Linked DNA regions of Homo sapiens. The protein of the gene in region 2 purifies or fractionates together with the protein of the main gene of each other region. This does not show direct contact. Each region holds a gene or a part of one and is shown on either strand. Other genes may lie near its edges. The genes, in order: PI4KB and RDM1.

The links.
Region 1: the proteins of RDM1 (region 2) and PI4KB purify together in Homo sapiens (affinity purification with mass spectrometry; 3 studies listed by BioGRID and IntAct, with this or other methods). This does not show direct contact.

Annotation. Positions count from the first base shown.
Region 1 is NC_000001.11:151,302,081-151,311,961, forward strand, and holds part of PI4KB (phosphatidylinositol 4-kinase beta), read right to left. Parts: intron 8,176-9,881; coding exon 8,131-8,175; intron 6,110-8,130; exon of another isoform or gene 6,087-6,109; intron 5,722-6,086; coding exon 5,494-5,721; intron 4,284-5,493; coding exon 4,056-4,283; intron 1,571-4,055; coding exon 1,461-1,570; intron 219-1,460; coding exon 114-218; intron 1-113. UniProt on the Homo sapiens protein: Phosphorylates phosphatidylinositol (PI) in the first committed step in the production of the second messenger inositol-1,4,5,-trisphosphate (PIP). May regulate Golgi disintegration/reorganization during mitosis, possibly via its phosphorylation.
Region 2 is NC_000017.11:35,926,247-35,936,575, reverse strand, and holds the start of RDM1 (RAD52 motif-containing protein 1), read left to right. Parts: upstream 1-5,802; 5' UTR 5,803-5,848; coding exon 5,849-5,944; intron 5,945-6,276; exon of another isoform or gene 6,277-6,293; coding exon of another isoform or gene 6,294-6,320; coding exon 6,321-6,500; intron 6,501-10,329. Other genes in the region: LYZL6 (lysozyme-like protein 6 precursor), read left to right, coding at 1,711-1,780. UniProt on the Homo sapiens protein: May confer resistance to the antitumor agent cisplatin. Binds to DNA and RNA.

The DNA.
Region 1 (9,881 bases), on a different chromosome or scaffold from region 2:
CTGGAAGCCTGACAGATTTTTTTGGAGGCTGATGGACAATAAAGTTGGTGCAGTGAGCACTTACAACTGCCTCTGAGCTTTGAGAGGGGTTCAGAGACCCACACCCAACTCACCGTACTTTCTCCTGCCAGGGCTCTTTGAGAGCAACTGCAGAAGGATCTTCTGGGTCTCGTTTGAAGGCTGTCGGGGTATGAGCCAGCTGTTCCGAAAGGCGCCGGCTGGCAGGAAGAAAATACATCATTTGCTTGGAGAAGCTACCCCCAAGCCCCATGCCCAGTCTATACTGACATTTCCTGCACTGTCTCCTGGATTCTGGACACACAAAGATAGGAACCCAGGCTGAAAGGGACTCATGGAAGAAAACATAACCAATGACACCTTTTTGCTAACTGATTGTAATCATGTTAAAATTAAGATTACCAGGCCCTCCATATTCCTCTACCAAGGCTGATTCAGAATGGGTGTGTCTCTAGAATTTGCATTTTTCTTTTCTTTTCTTTTTTTTTTTTTTTTTGAGATAAGAATCTCGCTGTGTCTCCCAGGCTGGAGTGCAGTGGCGAGATCTCGGCTCACTGCAAGCTCCGCCTCCTGGGTCCACGCCATTCTCCTGCCTCAGCCTCCCGAGTAGCTGGGACTACAGGCGCCCACCACCACGCCCAGCTAATTTTTTTTTTGTATTTTTTTGGTAGAGATGGGGTTTCATCGTGTTAGCCAGGATGGTCTCGATCTCCTGACCTTATGATCTACCCGCCTCAGCCTCCCAAAGTGTTGGGATTACAGGCGTGAGCCACCGCACCCAGCCTAGAATCTGCATTTTCAACAAGTCCTCCTTCCTCCCCCTGGATTCTGACACAGTCGCTTTGAGACCCCACCTTGAGACACACTGCTCAAACTCCTTCCTCTGGTGCTTTCTTGTTTTTTTTTTTTTTTTTTTTTGAGACGGAGTCTCGTTCTGTCGCCCAGGCTGGAGTGCAGTGGTGCGATCTCGGCTCACTGCAAGCTCCGCCTCCCGGGTTCACGTCATTCTCCTGCCTCAGCCTCCCAAGTAGCTGGGACTACAGGCATCCGCCACCACGCCTGGCTAATTTTTTTGTATTTTTAATAGAGACGGAGTTTCACCGTGTTAGCCAGGATGGTCTCGATCTCCTGACCTCGTGATCTGCCCGCCTCGGCCTCCCAAAGTGATGGGGTTACAGGTGTGAGCCACTATGCCCGGCCCCTCTGGTGCTTTCATCCCTTTGGAGTCTTTTTAAAATTTAATTTCCTTCTTTGGTAGCCCAAGTAATTTCTCAACCTACACCTTCATTGCCTCAAGTTTGGTGGCCCCAAACAAGGACAGAATGAAAGAGGGAAAGACACAGGCCAACAACAGATGATTGAGATGGAGAGGAAGGTAACAAAGAGATGGGAAGTTCCTGAAAGAGGGATGAAAAATGAGGGGCAATGTGATCTGGCCATACCGGATGTCCCCTGCTGCAATGAACACAGGCTCCTTGCTCTCCTGGCTGGTGATGCTGTCCACAGAGAACTGGGAGATGTTGTCACAGCTGTTGGTATGCACTTCGGGGAGCTGGAGAAAGGGGAGTGCTGGTCAGAAGTGCTAAAGTATAGGTCTCCCGTCTTTCCCCTCCTGCTTGCTTGCTATCACTGCAGCATGCTCATCCCTCTCTTTCAAACTCTGCTTACACACCATGTTGGTTACTGGGACCCCAGGCTGCCCAGAGCAGCATTTCTCAACATGTGAACTACCTGCAGTAGAATTACCCAGAATGCAGATTCCCAGGCCCCACCATCAATCTGAATTATAATTACTAGGAATGGGATCTGAAAGTCTGAATTTTTAACAAGTTCTCCAGAAGACTTCCAATGCACTAAAGTTTGCAAACCACTGCCATGACCATTACAGGAGCTCAAAATTTCAGCCTCACTGAGAGTCCCCCAAGGATAGGGATGCGTTCTCCCCTAGGGTCCAAAGCAGACTCTTTGCAGACTAGCTTCTGACAGTTTCTTCAATCTAAGTCATTCAATCTTATCTTCTCATCTCTCTCTAAATACAGAATATTCTACCAGACCCCAAGGCCCATGTCAAGTCTCTTCTGTCCTTCATACCAGAGCATTTCTTCTCAACTCCATTTGTCACCTAGTACACACTGCTTTGTTGTATATCTAAATTTTTTTTTCTTAAATGTCTAATTTCTGCAATTGGACTATAAGCTCAAAGACAGAGATTCTGCCTTTTGGCAAAGTGAAACCTGGCTGTGTGTTTTTTTTTTTTTTTTTTAGACGGAGTTTCGCTCTTGTTGCCCACGCTGGAGTGCAATGGTGTGATCTCGGCTCACTGCGACCTCCGCCTCCCAGGTTCAAGCGATTCTCCTGCCTCAGCCTTCTGAGTAGCTGGGATTACAGGCGCGCGCCACCATGCCTGGCTAATTTTTTGTATTTTTAGTAGGAACGGGGTTTCACCATGTTAGTCAGGCTGTTCTTGAACTCCTGACCTCAGGTGATCTGCCCACCTCAGCCTCCCGAAGTGCTGGGATTGCAGGCGTGAGCCACCGCGCCTGGCCCTGGCTGTGTTTTTGTTTTGTTTTGTTTTAAGACAGAGTCTCACTCTGTCACCCAGGCTGGAGTGCAGTGCTGTGATCTCAGCTCCCTGCAGCCTCCGCCTCCCAGGTTCAAGTGATTCTTGTGCTTCAAGAATCACTTGCCTCCCGAGTAGCTGGGATTACAGGCATGTTCCACCACACCTGGCTTTTTTTTTTTTTTCTTTTGAGACGGAATTTTGCTTGTCACCCAGGCTGAAGTGCAGTGGCGTGATCTTGGTTCACTGCAACCTCCGCCTCCTGGGTTCGAATAATTCTACTGCCTCAGCCTCCCGATTAGCTGGGATTACAGGCACATGCCACCACGCCCGGCTAATTTTTGTATTTTTAGTGGAGACGGGGTTTCACCATGTTGGCCAGGCTGGTCTCGAACTCCTGACCTCAGGTGATCTGCTCGCCCTGTCCTCCCAAAGTGCTGGGATTACAGGCGTGCGCCACCGCACCCGGCATAATTTTTCTAGTTTTAGTGGAGATGGAGTTTCACCTTGTTGGCCAGGCTGGTCTCGAAATCCTGACTTCAAGCGATCCACCCACCTCGGCCTCCCAAAGTGTTGGGATTACAGGTGTGAGCCACTGCGCCTGGCCAGCTGTGTTAATAGCTCTACACAAAATTCTGCTCTGGCTCTTCATGCCCCAGAATAAAGTTCAAGTTTCTTTCCCCAGCTTACAGGGTCCTTCCTATAGTCTGGTCCATGCCCACGTGTCCAGTCTTATTCTTCACCACTTCTTACCTCACACCTGCACATCACAGCCAGGCAAAATTTCTTTCAATTCCTATAATGGCCCAAGCTCCCTCTTGTCTTCTGGCCTTTGCATGCAGTGTTCCCTCTGTCCAGCACTCTTTGTCCAGCTAATTCCTACCCATGCTTCCAGCCTCAGCTGAGAGATTACTTCCTCCAGGAAATCTCTTGTGATGCCCGCCCCAAGTCTGGTGCTCTTATAATGTCCTATCCTTTCCCCCATGACTTGACTCTCACCACACTACAACTACTTGCTTACTGGCCTTGTTCTCTTTCCAGTTAGGTCATAAATCCCTTGTAGGCAGGGGCCAAGTCTTGTTCACTAGCATACAGCACTCAGGTCTGGCACATAGAAGGCCCTCAATAAAAATTTCTTGAATGAATTAATGTATGACTTCTCATCCTCTGCTATTCTATGACAACTTTATGTAGGTGTTCAATAAATATTTTCATTAAATTTCCCTCACTCCCCTTGGCCTAGAAGCTCCTCTTTACATTTAAATCTGAATCCTTCACCTGGAAAATGAACTCCACCTGAATCTATTCCAGGCTAGAGTTGTTCAGAGCTTTCCCCATATTACCCCTCACTACCTACACCACTCATTAGGATACTTGCCTTACCCTGCCTTGGGATATGCTGTCTTGTTTCCAATATAGTGAAAGCTCCTGGAGAAAGCTCCTGTGACCCAGCATTACCTCCCTGAAGCCCTCTCACCTCCACTTGCAGCTCGCCTATGTCATCCACCGACCAGGCCTCATCATCGTTGTCATAGTTGGGCACAGTGCTGAAGCTGCCAGCTCGCTGCTCATGGGTAATACCACATTCGGGCAAGTTTTCTACGGACCTCGTACTCCGAATTCGGTTCTCGGGGATCCGGGCAGGGACACTGGTGGTGTCAAAGTTTTCACATTCAAGGACTTCCACATAAATCAGGTAGGGAGCCTGGGGGAAGAGTGAGACAGTATTTGCAACTTACTTCCACCACTAACCCCCAAATCTCAACTCTGTTAGCAAGGTTCTTCCTGCTGTCCTTTCTCCTAGCTCCAGCCTTCATCCAATAGTCCTCTGAAACTATGAACACTATATTTAGGGCAGATACTTGTCCTATGATCACCTATGTAAAGAATTTGTGTGACAGAATCCTTAAGTCTTCAAAATATTTCAACTGAGCTCCAAAATGTACAGATGATGTGCTTGGGCCAAACCACTCTAGACTATCAATTACAGGCTGTAAGGGAGGCCTAGATGCCTCTGTGGGCTCGTCCTGAAGACAGGGCCCAGGGAGCTACAGTGGACAAAAAGACTGGGACAAAGCTGGGCACTGTCCCAAGGAGTGTCCCAAACTTCAGTATTTCCTTTGAAAGAAGAATATGGGCCGGGCGCGGTGGCTCACGCCTGTAATCCTAGCACTTTGGGGGGCCGAGGCGGGTGGATCATGAGGTCAGGAGTTCAAGACCAGCCTGGCCAAGATGGCGAAACCCCGTCGCTACTAAAACTACAAAAATTAGCCGGGTGTGGTGGCAGGCGCCTGTAATCCCAGCTACTCAGGAGGCTAAGGCAGGAGAATCGCTTGAACCTGGGTTGCGGAGGTTGCAGTAAGCCAAGATTGTGCCACTGCACTCCAGCCTCCGCAATAGAGTGAGACTCCATCTCAAAAAAAAAAGAAGAATCTGAACCATGAATACTCATTCCAGTCAGCACACAAATTCAGCTAATTCTCTCCAGTGTGAATTGGGCATCCTTCTCTCCTTTTGTCGGCTCATTCTGATCAGAAAAGGTCTTAGAAACAAAATATTTCTCTATCCTTATGGTTGCTGTATCTGGAAAGCCCAAGAGTTATAGAAAGGCTGGAGAAAAGCTACCAAAATGACCATAAGGTGGGGTGAAGAGCAATTCTCCTAAGATACAGCAAGAAGGAAGCTAAAAAGATTAGGTTTCTTTGGTCCAGAAAAACAAAGCCCAAAAAGGGATACAGGGGGGCTCTCAAAATCACAATCGCACTGAGACAGAGTCATGGTTGACATATGCATCATGAACTATGAAGGGAGTCTAGGATGTTGGTGAGGGCCTCACTGGTCATACACGCAAACTCTGAACAACCATGGGTGAAGAGTCACGTCCAGGGTAGGGGTTTGGGCCAGAACCCATCTACCTTGTCCTTGGAGTTGAGGACAACAGCCTGTGTGTGGGGTACACGGACCACGTGGTGGTCAAAGCCAGCAGTGGGCAGCCAGACTCGGGCAGGGAGCTTATGGTTGAGCAGGGAGAGCTCTGAGATCAGCCTCTGTGTTTTCTGCTCTTTGGTGGGGAGCGTGGCCAGCCGCTTGCCGATCGCCATCAGGGACTTGATGAATTCTCTCTCAGGAGCCAGTCGAACAGGCTACAGGGGTTTGGGGTAAGACAAAAGATGGTGAAGAAACCATAGAATACAATGGCACACCCACTCAGTCACTCCTGGCCATGCAGGCCGGGGACCCCACTATCTGGAGAACTCCAGGAAAGCAGCTGCTTTTTAGTCTTAGTAGGAGCTTCCACCCACCCTTCACAACTTGAATTGAGAATAGCCAGCACATTCCTTCCCTATAGGCTATCCCTTGAGGGTAAGGGAGGCCATGAGTCCAGGTAACTGGGATGCACTCCTCTTCTCCTGGACTTGGGTTCCTTAAGGACTGTACCAAGGCTTCAGAGTGAGCAGGGGGACATCTGGATAGGTTAGCCAGGGCCACAGAGAGAAGAGCTGCTTACACCTGAATTGTTTCACCCTTTTCAAGAACAGGGTTGTCCTTCTCCCCATCTGGATCCTTGGGCTAGATCTCTGCCGAGGGGCTCCGTCAAGTCCCGCAAGGCTAGAGAAGGGAGCCCCACATCATTTCCACTTTCAAAGAGGGAAGATGCTCGTCATTCAAATTACTTCTGTTGATTTCCATGGTATCCCCCTGTCCGTCCCACAATCTCTTACCAGGCGTCAATGCACATGCAGGGGATGGAAAGAGGATGAGCCGATGAGCAGACTTTGCATTAATCAAGGAGAAAGAAAAAGCAGATGGAAGGAGGTAGGTAGATGGAGAAAGCAACAGCTCCTTTTAGCCCTTGATGATGGCCCTGAAGGCCTGTCTCTTTTAGTGACTCCTCTTTGGGTCCTCTTCCCCTACCTCTCAGTGACTAGGTTCCTCATATTAATTCCCTGCTGTGAGTTTGGCTCCTTGTGCTGGGCAATTCAGTCATCCTCAGAAAGAGCAAAGTTGGTCTTGGAATTAAGGTGCAGGTGGGGAAAAAGAGGGACTCAGCTAGACACGAAGAAAGGCTCTCTTCCCAGTCTAAGCCCTTCTACCGTAAGGGGCATTTTATCAAGACAGCCACCCAACTCCCCATCCCATCTCCCCTCCTTTGTAGAAACAGCATTTGACTCACCAAGCCTTTCTCTCCCTTTCCGTGTGTCTTGCTTAGTTTCTGGATTGAGAGAATTTCTATCCTTGCTCCCTCGAACTCTAAAAGAGCTTCTTTTGAAAACTGGGGAGTATCAGGCCTACCTCTACATGTGCAACAGTGCCAGGATTCAAAGGAAAAGCTCATTCCAGCCTCTGCCTCTTGGGAGATGGTTCAGAGTGCCACATAGGGACTGAAAGAGGGTGTCTGAATCCTTCAGGAATGCTTTAAGTGACATTGTTGAAAAGAGATAAAGAAAAGGAAAACAATGGAATTGGGTTTCTAAGGTCCCTGGAAATATCCTGGGGGTCTAATAGAGAAAGAAAATAAGAGGAAATTTGAAGACTCACTTCTTCCTTCATCTGAATCCACTCAGATGGCAACTGATCTCTGTCCCAAGGACCCTCTACCCCACCCAATTCATAATCATCTCAGATTAGAAAAGGCAGAATTCCTTCCCATTCTCAAATCAGCATTTGGGTTAGGGGCCCCTAAGTTACGTGAGCATGTTAGAAATGTGACCCCAGGCCTCAAGAGAGAGGCTCTGCCACATGAGAGGAGATAGGAATCATGACTGAAAGGGGATTAGCACAGAACAGAGAAAACTGATTTGATAGACAAATCAAATAGAAAATATAAAAAAAATCAGCCAAACTCCCAGAGGTCCTGCATTTCCTCTCACGTCTTTGCCCAGCAACAAGGTCCAAGACCCTGTGGGACCAAAGGGTCAGGGGTTAGTCCAGAGGGAACAAGAAAGGAGAGGGGATTAAGGAACATCCTGGGCAGTGAGCTGGGAAAAGGGAAGAACTCAGACCTGGAAAAAATGTGGTTGAAGTTAAAAAAGAAAACCAGTTGTGGAGAGGCAAAACTTTCCTTCAGGCCAAGTCCTATTTGTTTTTGGAGTCAGCTCACCAGCACAGGGCCTAGCATTTAGAAGATTATGAATAAATATTTGATAATCTGACGGCAGAAGCCATGGGGAAAGGGTTCTGGGTGGGAGAAACAGGATCCTGGGGGTTTCTGCCAGGCAGTTTTTGGCTCTAATCCAGGAGTGAATTCTACCTCTCTCCCAGCTGTTTGCTCCAGACACTCAGGAGCTGGGGGCTGAGCAGCACTGTACTCCAGCTGTCTCTGAGAGAAGGATCAGCTGAGCTCATCTCAGCCTGGGCTCAGGATTTCCACCGCAAAGGTCAGGGGAACTCCAGCAGATCTGGGAGGTCTGGGAGGGAGGAGCTGATCTCCCAGTAAGAAAAGGGGCATTTTAACTCCAGCCTTGGCCTGGGGGCTCAGAAGACCTGGGGACGGAGAGGAAATGCGGCCACTGGGGGAGCCTGCCACCCCGTCCCAGCCTGGCCCCACTTACGGAACTGAATGAATTATCAATACTCTCGGTGCTGGAGGAGAGCTCCTGGGAAAGGGCCAGAGGGCAAAGGGAGAAGGAGGGGGTGGGAAGGGAGGGGAGAGAGACAAAGGTAAAGAATTTAGCTCCAACTTGGATCGTAACTGCTTCTCTAGTGAAGTTCTACCTTTCTGCTTTAATAAAAGAAAGTCAACTCAGAAATGCTACTTGCCCAGATGCTTGACCACTTGTAGGAGATGCTGGAAGGGCAGCTCAGACTTTAAGGTCAGAAGGACTGAAGAGACAAAGCAGCCTCTGCTTTTCACTTTATTCACTTCTATTCTCAACTGAATGGATCTTCCTTCTAGGCCAAAGCTCTAAAGCTGGGTCCCTAGGGCAGTAACTGCACTGCCAAGCTTCCCTGCTCTTTTTTTTTACCCACTCACATGCTCTCAACCAAATCCTTCTCCATGGGGACCACCACAGGACTGAACTTAATAAGCTGCATGGCTCCCATACTGGAAACCCCATGTTCCTCCAGCTTTTTGGAAACCTCAGGGAGGAAGAAAAGCTAAACTTTCAGTGGCAGGTATACCTCTTCTCTAATTAGCCTCATTATCACCCTGGGAAGCTGAATCCCAACCTTGAACCTCTGTGACAAAGAGCATCCTAGACCAATAAGCCCAAAATCTCTGGGCTGGATGCTGATGGGAGTGAAGGATAAATCAATCTCCTATCTACCAAACCTCCTTAGGCTTCCTATCAGGCTATCCACATGACAATCAATATACTACAATTTTTGATATAAGTTGGGGAGTTAGCTATATCCATCTAGAAAGCTGACTAGCTGGATAGCAGCTGTCCTAGTCCCAGCCCAGAGGATTTATCTAAACATCACCCCATTGCTGTGTCATATGTGTCCGTGTGCAAAAACAGGGGAAAGAGATGGTGTCAAACTCTCACTCAGCAGCTCTGAGGCAACACTCATGCACAGGGCTCATCCTGGGTTCTGTCCAACATGGTCTACCAGGGCAGGGAACAGAGCAGCACGTGTGCACAAATCTAGGTTGTGGGGGACGTTGAGGTCGGGGTGGGGGAGGTTAGACTTAAAAGACAAAGTCCTAAGAGCTCCCAGGGCAGGAGGGCAGTGGTGAGTTTCTACTCTGAAATCTGCTGAGTAGATTCAAGCATCCACTTGAACTCAATTCCATGGTTTCAGTTCTATTCTAGCTGGAGGTCCTATAGTCAGGTCCTTCCTTGAAGAATCTGGGGACTGGAGCACTTTGAGGGAGAAGCCACATTTGGAAACATGCCCCTAAGGCAACAACTCTTCCATTTTGGGTAGAAGGTGGTGGGAGAATTAAGGCAGTGAGGATGTCAGAGTCTATTATGAATTAGTGGTTCTATTTCTACCTATGAGCTGGTTGGAGAAGGAACAGCAGGCAAGATATTGGCTCCCTGAGCAACGCTCCAGCTGATTCTGTCACAGACAGGTCCTGTCTGACTCATTGACAGCCCTGGGGGAAGGGAGGTATATCATGACCTGCTCCTCTCCTACTCCCTGGGCTTGAGTCACTCACACTGAGTCAGCTCCGGGGAGTAAAGATGAAGCAAGAAGCTGACATCACACCATATCAAGCTAGAAGGCCTACTGGGGCTTCCAGTGTGACATGCGGCAGATTTCTCTGTACAAAGGTTGCAGTCCTGAAAAGACAAAGCTAATCTACTAACAGTGTCATCATATCGGGGAGGGTGTGATACCTAAATCACTCTCT
Region 2 (10,329 bases):
TCTTCTGGTTGCAGTAACAGAAAACAACTTGAGCTAGCTGGGGGAAATTTATTCTGAGAGGCCCAGATGTCTCACTGAGCCCACTCAAGGGCTGCAGCTGGGCCTCAGGAAGAGCATGGAACCAGGGCTGGAAATTGTCAGCACACTGTCCATGGCAGGTTTCAGCTTCTCTTGGTGCATTTGCTTCACTTCTCTCTCCGCAGACTTTCTCTGCTCCACAGTCTAAAGGACAAAGGGTGCTGCAAAGTTAATAAGCTAAAGTCCTAAGCAACCATAGGGACTGGCTAGGCTCAGTCCCAGTCCAAGTTCCTGGGATAGAGAATCTGATTGGTTCCACTTGGACCATGTGTGCCCCCTTGGTCCAATCAACTGTAGGGATGGGAGGAGTTAAGCAATACAATTATGGCTGCCGCTCGGGCCCTGTGGCCATAATTGACAATATTTTTTTATTTAAAAATGTGGACCGGGCATGGTGGCTCACGCCTGTAATCCCAGCACCTTGGGAGGCTGAGGCAGGTGGATCACTTGAGGTCAGGAGTTCGAGACCAGCCTGGTCAACATGGTGAAGCCCCGTCTCTGTTAAAAATACAAAAAATTAGCTGGTCATGGTGGCGCCTGCCTGTAGTCCCAGCTACTCAGGAGGCTGAGGCAGAAGAATCGCTTGAACCTGGGAGGTGGAGGCTGCAGTGAGCCGAGATCGCGCCACTGCACTCCAGCCTGGGCGGCAGAATGAGACTCTGTTTAAAAAAAAAAAAAAATGTGGCGGCTGGGCGCAGTGGCTCACTCCTGTAATCCCAGCCCTTTGGGAGGCTGAGGTGGGTGGGTCACAAAGTCAGGAGTTCGAGACCAGCCTGGCCAATATGGTGAAACTTTGTCTCTACTAAAAAATACAAAAATTAGCCAGGCGTTGTGGTGGGTGCCTGTCCCAGGCTGCTTTTTGTGTTATGTGGGGATGAGGCACTGACCCTGTGGGCCGGGATCTCTCTGGGGACCTTTCCCTTGCTTTCTGTCCATGCTCCTTAAGGCAAGCTGCATGGGAGGCTGAGGCAGGAGAATCGCTTGAACCCGGGAGCCAGAGGTTGCAGTGAGCTGAGATCGCGCCACTGCACTCCAGCCTGGGTGACAGAGAAAGAATCCGTCTCAAAAAAAGAAACAAAAAACGACAACAAAAAAATGTGGCATTCATCAGCTGGGCAGACACCCACATAGCTGTGAGCTCACCAACGGTGGACATTCAGATAGTCACCTTTTCTGAGCTTCAAACTAGATATATAAGTAACACAAATGGCTGCCTCTACAGGCAACTGTGGAAGGAGTCAAATCCCCTGCATACTCAAAACACCACAGAAAAGAATTGACAGCGATGATTATGCTGATCCTTTCTGGAGGGAGAATCAATGGTTGTACCTGGGACTTTTTTTTTTTTTTTAATAAGTAACTCTCAGCCCTGTAAAACAGTGCTCACCCCTTCAGGGAGATATGAGGATTTTAAAATGTGGAAACGTTGATCCAGGGAAGCAGGCAAACACCAGAGATGAGAGAGTTTTACAGGATTCGTCAGAGGGGACAGTGGAGGACAGACCAGAGGGCTAGCTAGCAATGACGGGGATTCTGGGCGTTGCTCCATATGCGAGACTCACCAAGAACTGGGTCATGTGTGTGGAAGAGTTACTGAGTGTGAGGCAAGAACCATGTCTTTTTTCTCCGCAGGGTAGAATGGAGGTTGCACTGTTCAGGCCGGCCACTCTTCTACTGGCTGACAGGATGCCGCCTGAGATGAAACAGGGTGCGGGTGCACCGTGGAGTCATTCCAAGACTCCTGTCCTCACTCAGGGATTCTTCATTTCTTCTTCCTACTGCCTCCACTTCATGTTATTTTCTTCCCTTCCCATTTACAACTAAAACTGACCAGAGCCCCAGGAATAAATGGTTTTCTTGGCTTCCTCCTTACTCCCATCTGGACCCAGTCCCCTGGTTCCTGTCTGTTATTTGTAAACTGAGGACCACAATAAAGAAATCTTTATATTTATCGAAATATTAAAGCACTCGCTCTGCAAAGACTGTGTCCATTTATTCATTAGTCTACATATATTTGAGTACCTAAGACAGTGGGAGTGTACTAGGTAGTAGAAGGAAGACAAAACACAGCTATTGTTGTTTAGGTGTTCATAATCTAGGTGGAGAAGCAGAGACATCCACAAACATTACAATAGGTAATTAAATGTATAGTAAAATCCATAATTATTGCTTTGAAACAGTATCAGCATCCAAGTAATTCCTCCAAAGAACAATTTTTGAAGTAAAAGAGAAAACTCAGAAGTAGGCAATGGGTGGGGTCTGGTATTGATGTGGAGAAAGTAGTGATGGGATGGAGAAATAGTGGCAGATACCAATAATTTGGGGGTGCTTTGGGAGAATAAGCTAGGATCTAGATGATTAAAAAAAGGTGCTCTGGACAGGATCTGGTTTGCCTGGAGGGTGCTGAGGTGGAGTAGAACATGCTTAAAGAAAAGGCAAAATCAGAAAAGTGACAGTTGAAGGAATGTCCTACACATAGCCACCGTCAGTAGTGTCTGACCAATCTGGGGTTTTATCTTGGACCACTTATTTCTCTACCACTGAGCCTTAGCTGTTTCTACTATAGAAGGAGGGATTTGACTATTCAGTAGTTGCCAGACTTTTGTATTTCACAGGTGATAAAATGTAAAAAATAATTAAACCTGAGATTTCTTTCTTTTTTTTTTTTTTTTGAGACAGAGTCTCACTGCGTAGCCCAGGCTGGAATGCAATGGCAGGATCTTGGCTCACTGCAACCTCCAACTCCCAAGCTCAAGCAATTCTCCTACCTCAGCTTCTCAAGTAGGTGGGACTACAAGTGTGTGCTACTACACCCAGCTAATCTTTTTTTTTTTTTTTTTTGAAATGGAGTCTCACTCTGTCACCCAGGCTGGAGTGCAGTGGCATGATCTCCACTCACTGCAACCTCCGCCTCCTGGGTTCAAGCAATTATCCTGCCTCAGCCTCCCCAGTAGCTGGGATTACAGGCGCCCCCCGACCACACCCGGCTAATTTTTGTATTTTTAGTAGAGACGGGGTTTCACGGTGTTGGCTAGGCTGGTCTCGAACTCTTGACCTCAGGTGATCCACCCACCTCAGCCTCCCAAAGTGCTGGAATTACAGGCATGAGCCACCGTGCCCAGCTATTTTGTATTTTTAGTAGAGACAGGGTTTTACCACGTTGGCCAGCCTGGTCTCAAACTCCTGACCTCAAGTAATCCATCTGCCTCGGCCTCCCAAGTGCTGGGATTATGGATGTCAGGCACCAGGCCCGGCCGAGGTTTCTAATTTTTAATTTTAATGTCCAAGTAAGAGCATTAAAGCAACTATCCTCTATTAGCATCTTTTCATAGAAAAATTTTTAGTATCAACATTATAGGGAGGTCATACTTGTAGAAGAATGGAGTGGAATCTACTTTATTTTATGAAATTATAAAAAACCTGATTATATTTTCCATATGGTCCTCATTTTGTAGAGTAGGGGTGAAAACTTTATCACAGCATGAGTCTGAGGATCATTATTCAGAAATCACAAGAGACTTGTCCTGTAGGGTCTCTTCTGGCTCTGACATTCTAGGATTAAAATAAACAGTAGTAGGACTCACTTTACTTCTTGTGTTACTGAAACTGCCTTTATAAAAATTATGACAAATCTGACCTAACTGATTCCATTTTGCTTCTAACCTCCAAGCTGCCCTTGCTCATTCCTGGGCACAGGCCAAGCTAACTATGAGAGGAATTTTTGCTGCTTAACTTTGAAACAAAGATAATAGTCCCTTCCTGAAACAAACCACCTCCCTGCTTGGGAATCAGATCTCCTCTGTAAAACTAACAAATTAGCCACAAGATTAGAAATTATGGCTCAGAAATTATGTAGACAGAGGCCACAAGATTCCTAACCTCTCCAGTTGCTCCTATACAAAACACTGTTGTAGTCTCAGCAATGCACCAAGATATAACACTCTGTAGTTGTCTGATATAACCCCCGGAGTTCTTTGTCCTACCTCCAAGATGATTAAGGAGCGTGGACACAAAGGTGGGGTTACAGCAAAAGTTTAATAAGCGAAAGAAGAAAGCTCTCTGCCAGCAGAGCGTGGGGGCCAGAACGGGTGTCCCCTGTGAGGCTGGGGTCTTTATGGACTGGGAAGGGGAAGCAATGTGCTTAGTCCGACAGCTGTCTTGGAGAACTCAGCTTGGCAAGGAGCCTTGGCCCAGGACCAATCAGGAGCTGAAATGATTCTTAGATGCTGCTTAGCTTGGCCCAAGACCTATCAGGGGCTGAAGTGATGATTCATAGAGGCTGGACTTACAGGTCCAAAAAGGAAAGTAGAGTGCCCACTGGAACTCACCGGAGCCCACTATGCCCATGCCCACAAAAGTAGAAGCAACTTCATCCTGGGAGCCCACTGACTATACAAAGGACAAAGGCATTTCTATGCCAGGCCTTGTTCTTTTGTCTGAGTGAGCTGAAGTTTTGTGCAAGCTTTTATCCAAATGGGCCAGAGGTTTTTCCATCTGTGCAGCCGTGGGCATGTCTCCAGGCACAACACCCTATGCTAGTTCTCTTATGGGTGCTGGTAGCTTGAATTTTTTCCCAGGCTGCTTTTTATGTTATGTGGGGGTAAGGCACTGACCCTGTGAGCCGGGATCTCTCCGGGGACCCTTCCCTTGCTTTGTGTCCAAGCTAACTAACTGCTTTCAACATTACTATTGTAAAACCTAATATTGGGGTTCTAGGTATTTTTCAGACCCTTCATTCTGATGGACCAGCTGGCACCACTCACATGGGCAAACTGGCTCATCTGGTCTTGCGGCCCCCAACCAGGAATTCACTCAGCACAAGAACACAAGCTCTGACTCTCTATGATTTCATCCTTGACCCAACCAGTCAGCATTTCCTATTCCCTGGCCCCCTGACTGCCAAATTACCCTTTAAAAAACACCAGCTTCCAAATTTTCAGGGAGGCTAAGTTGAGTAATAGTAAAACTCCAGTCTTCTATTTAGCTGGTTCTGTGCTTATGAAACTCTTTGCCTATTTCAATAACACTGTCTCAGTAAATCAGCTTTTCTGGGCAGTGGGTATGATGAACCCACCAGTTGATTACACTCCTCCACCACGTAGCTGATTATGACACCTACCCTTCTCAGACACCATCAGCTCCAATGTTGGTGCCTTATTTGGACTTATTCTTTGTGGGTTTGTTTGTTTGTTTGTTTGTTTTTCTTTTTTCAAAATTAATCTCTCCTTCTCACTCGTACCTCCAACCTCTCACATCATCTGACCCCCACAAGTACACATACACGATTCACCAGAATGACGTAGGACAATCAGGGAATTCTTTTTAAGGATTTCATGCGAGACTGTTAATGGTTTAGTGAGTTATACTTTTATTTGCAATTTTAAACTCTTAAAAAAACCTCTTAAGTCAAAAGATTGCATCTTTCGTGGTTATTTCCCACAAGTGCTAATACTTAGTACCCTAATCTCCTTCAGGAGTGAAGATGAAGCTGGCTTCTATAAACACGTCCCTACCCTTCCATCCTGTCAGCCTATTTTGGGACTTTACCCTAAACATGCATTGAACGGAAGCTCTAAACTCAGGGATCTTGTGGCTGTGACTGGAGGAGGGGAACAGACTCAGAGGCTGGCCCTAGGTAGGAGGGGCAAGGGAGCGATCCGAGCCCCGTCCCCGCCCCTCGCATGCGCCTCTTTTTAAAAAAGCGCGGGCGTGCCTTGCGCAGGCGCAATGCTGGGGCGAGGGTTAGCCGCGCAGGTGCGGTGAAGGGAGGATGGCGGAGTTGGTACCTTTTGCGGTTCCCATCGAGAGTGACAAAACCTTGCTAGTGTGGGAGCTGAGCTCCGGACCCACGGCCGAGGCTTTGCATGTGAGCCGGGGCCAGGATGGAGGGAGGGATGGAGAAAGCTGCCCACCCGCTGACTGGGAGTTCCGGAGTCCTGCCTCAGACCCTCACCTGCCTGAGCCTCCGCTGAAGGACTCTTAATTATAAAGGGGATCCCAACTGACAACTGACGACCCCCAACAGATTTTTAGAGTCCCGGAGAGGTATCTCTCCACCTTCAGAACGTTTTACCTTCCAGTGCTTCTTAAAGTTTAGGATTTTAAGAGGAAAACCTGTTGATTAAGTGGGAAGTGTTTTGAATCGCATCCTTCGCGAAGAGAGGTTTGGGGAATATGAGGGCATGTGCGGTTTTGTTTTCTGGGCGTGAGATTTCATGCATTTACTTGTCCCACCCCCACAGCATTCTCTGTTCACAGCATTTTCTCAGTTTGGCCTTCTGTATTCAGTCCGGGTCTTCCCAAATGCTGCAGTGGCCCATCCTGGTTTCTATGCCGTCATTAAGTTTTATTCTGCAAGGGCTGCCCACAGAGCCCAAAAGGCATGCGACCGGAAGCAGCTTTTTCAGAAATCTCCAGTCAAGGTGGGTCCAAATATGGAATTCCTAGCTCCGCTGAAATGAAGTGCTGAATTCAATAATAGGTTAGCATTTGTCCAGCACGCTGGTTTACAGAATATTTTCAGATGCATTGCCACACTAATCTTCCAGTTCTCTGGGTTTTTTACATGAAGAAACTCAAACTCAAGGTGGTTGAGCGACTTGTTTAAGGTTCCTGACAAGAATTATGGAAACTCGAGATTGAACTAAAACCTACTGATGCTAAACCTCATGTCATTTTATGCTGTCCCTTTTTAAGAAATCTCAGCTTGGGCAACAAAATGAGACCCCATCTCTATAAAAAAAATTGTAAAGATAAGGCTGGGCACCGTGGCTCATGCCTGTAATCCCAGCACTTTGGGAGATCGAGGCGGGCTGATCACTTGAGGCCAGCAGTTTGAGACCAGCCTGGGCAACATAGCAAAACTCCATCTGTACTATAAATACAAAAACTAGCCGGGCATGGTGGCATGCGCCTGTAGTCCCAGCTACTCGGGAGGCTGAAGCATGGGAATTACTTGAACCCAGGAGGTGGAGGCTGCAGTGACCCGAGATTGTGCCACTGCACTCTAGCCTGGGTGACAGAGTGAGACTCCATCTCAAAAAAAGAAAGAAAGAAAAATAAAAAATTAAATATCAGCCAGATGTGGCATGCACCTGTAGTCCCAGCTACTTGGGAGACTGAGGTGGGAGGATCGCTTGAGCCCAGGAGTTTGAGGATGCAGTGAGCAATAATTGCATCACTGCACTCCTGCCTGGGCCACAGAGTGAAACCCTATCTCTAAAAAATGACTGAATGAATGAAATCTTTGCCAGAAGACTTCTGCTTATATTTACTTTTTAATTTTTTTAGAGACAGAGTATCCCTGTGTTGCCCAGGCTGGTCTCTAAATCCTGGCCTCAAGCAGTCCTCCTGCCTCAGCCTCTTAAGTAGCTAGGTACAGGCCACCATGCCCAGCTATATTTACTTTTTATTTTTATTTTTTGAGATGGAGTCTCATTTTGTCACCCAGGCTGGAGAGCAGTGGCATGATCTTGGCTCACTGCAACCTCTGCCTTCCGGGTTCAAGTGATTCTCCTGCCTCAACCTCCTGAGTAGCTGGGACTACAGGCGCCTGCCACCACACCTGGCTAATTTTTGTATTTTAGTAGAGATGGGGTTTCACCATGTTGGCCAGTCTGGTCTCGAATTCCTGACCTCAAGTGATCCACCCACCTCAGCCTCCCAAAGTGCTGGGACTACAGGTGTGAGCCACTGTGCCCAGCCATATATTATATATTTACTTTTTTTTTTTTTAAAGACAGAGTTTCGCTCTTGTTGCCCAGGCTGGAGTGCAATGGTGTGATCTCAGCTCACCACAACCTCCGCCTCCCGGGTTCAAGCGATTCCCCTGCCTCAGCCTCCCAAGTAGCAGGGATTACAGGCATGCACCACCACGCCTGGCTGATTTTGTATTTTTGGTAGAGATGGTGTTTCTCCATGTTGGTCAGGCTGGTCTCGAACTCCTGAACTCAGGTGATCTACCCGCCTCAGCCTCCCAAAGTGCTGGGATTACAAGCGTGAGCCACCGCGCCCAGCCTATATATTTAGTTTTATGTGAATTTAAAATGTGTGGGTGTGACCAGGTCTTCTGCCAGCTGTTACATAAAGGAGACTGTATCATCATCATCACATCATCATCATCATACTCACCATGGCTCACAAACTGCCTGTTTGAAACTCCCTTCAGTTCTGAGAGGATGGGAACATTCTTTAAGCGGTATTGTAGAAACCCTATTCCATATTAACATGCCAACCAATTTTACTTTCCCAGAGCCACAGAATGATATCTCATTGTATGCCTCAATTCAGTCATCTTTCCCTTTTCAAGGACCATTTCAATTCCTGATTGGCTACTTGATCTGACTGCTTCCTACTAATCTTGCTGCCTATTCTTCTCTATATTCCATTCCTCATTGAATTAACCTTGATCAAATCTGAGAACTCTGCTTAGTAATGACTCCAGGTATACTACTCCCACTTCAGTAGCCTGTTCAATGCCCTCTTAGCCTGTTCAACACCCTCTTCAATCCTGGTTCCACTTTCTGTGACTGAAATGATTACCTGTGAGATATTATTTAACTTTTGAACTATGGTCTGTTTCTAACCTGTGACCATTTCACATAGCCACTCAAATATTATAAAGGTACAACTAAGATTATGAAACATTTACTTGGTATCATTTTGCAAATAATGAGTTTTTAGTGCTCTTTGGACATTGAGACCATTTCATAAGCTTTAGGTTTTGAGAATTTCACAGCATAAAGCCTATCACTGAGACAGTAATGAAGGAAATGTTCTACAACTCAATAGATAGGTGAGATGAGAGGGCATTCATACTAGATTTATTACTAAACTCAAAGCTTTCAGTTACTACTCACCCCCCACTGTAATCTAGTTTAAGTGTTCTTTTCTACTTTAGCACGTACACTTAGTTCCTGTCTTTTTTGCCTTTCTAAATACAGAAAAGAGAATAATGTTTTAAAATAAAATCAAGGAAAGGCCTAAGGCACCTGAGAGGGTTTTGTTTTTGCTTTTTGGGTTTTTGTTTTTTTGTTTGGTTTTTTCGTTTTGTTTTTTTGAGATGGAGTCTTGCTCTGTCACCCAGGCTGGAGTGCAATGGCATGATCTCAGCTCACTGCAGCCTCTGCCTCCCGGGTTTAATTGATTCTCCTGCCTCAGCCTCCAGAGCAGCTGGGATTACAGGCGTGCACCACCACGCCCAGCTAATTTTTGTATTTTTGGTAGAAACAAGATTTCTCCATGTTGGCCAGGCTGGTCTTGAACTCCTGACCTCAAGTGATCTGCCGCCTCGGCCTCCCAAAGTGCCGGGATTACAGGTGTGAGCCACCGTGCCCGGCCAAGAGGGTTTTTTGGTTCTTTTTTTTTTTTTTTTTTTTTTTTTGGTGAAATGAAGGAAAATGGTTGCTGCAAAGTTATCCAAGCTGACAGCTGTCTGTGCCACCCAGAGGCTCAGAGTTTTTCTGAAGCTTCCTGGTTGTCTGGAAAGGCTCCACTGTGACTCACGATACAGGCCGGTCTCGCCAGTGGCACTCAACGTTTAAAAACTGGTCTTTATTTCTTTCCCAACAGGCATTTCTCCTTCTTTTCAGTTGGAGAAAGTAATTTCATTTTTTACTTGCTCATTGTTTTATTCATTCAATCGATAGATCATCTGTGCTCTATTATATGCCAAGAACTATGCTTAGTTCTGGAAATGAAAAAAGAATAAGCTATGGTTTCATCTGGGACTTAAGGAGCTTATAAACCAGTGATAGAGGAAGGTGCATAAACAAATCAATAAAGAATTAACTTTACGGCCAGGCGCAGTGGCTCACACCTGTATCCCAGCACTTTGGGAGGCCGAGGCGGGCAGATCACAAGGTCAGGAGATCGAGACCATCCTGGCTAACACGGTGAAACCCCATCTCTACTAAAAAATACAAAAAATTAGCCGGGCGTGGTGGCAGGTGCCTGTAGTCCCAACTACTCGGGAGGCTGAGGCAGGAGAATGGCGTGAACCTGGCAGGCGGAGCTTGCAGTGAGCCAAGATCGCGCCACTGCACTCCAGCCTGGGTGACAGAGCGAGACTCCGTCTCAGAAAAAAAAAAAGAACTTTACTGTTAATTCTTATTAATTTCTAATACAAATAAATTTGACTTTATTTGTATCATTTGAATTTCATGAATATAATATACTACATTTAAAAAATGAAATATATAGGAAAACTTGTGATGTAAGAAATCCACAAAAATGGATAAAATGTTTTAAGAA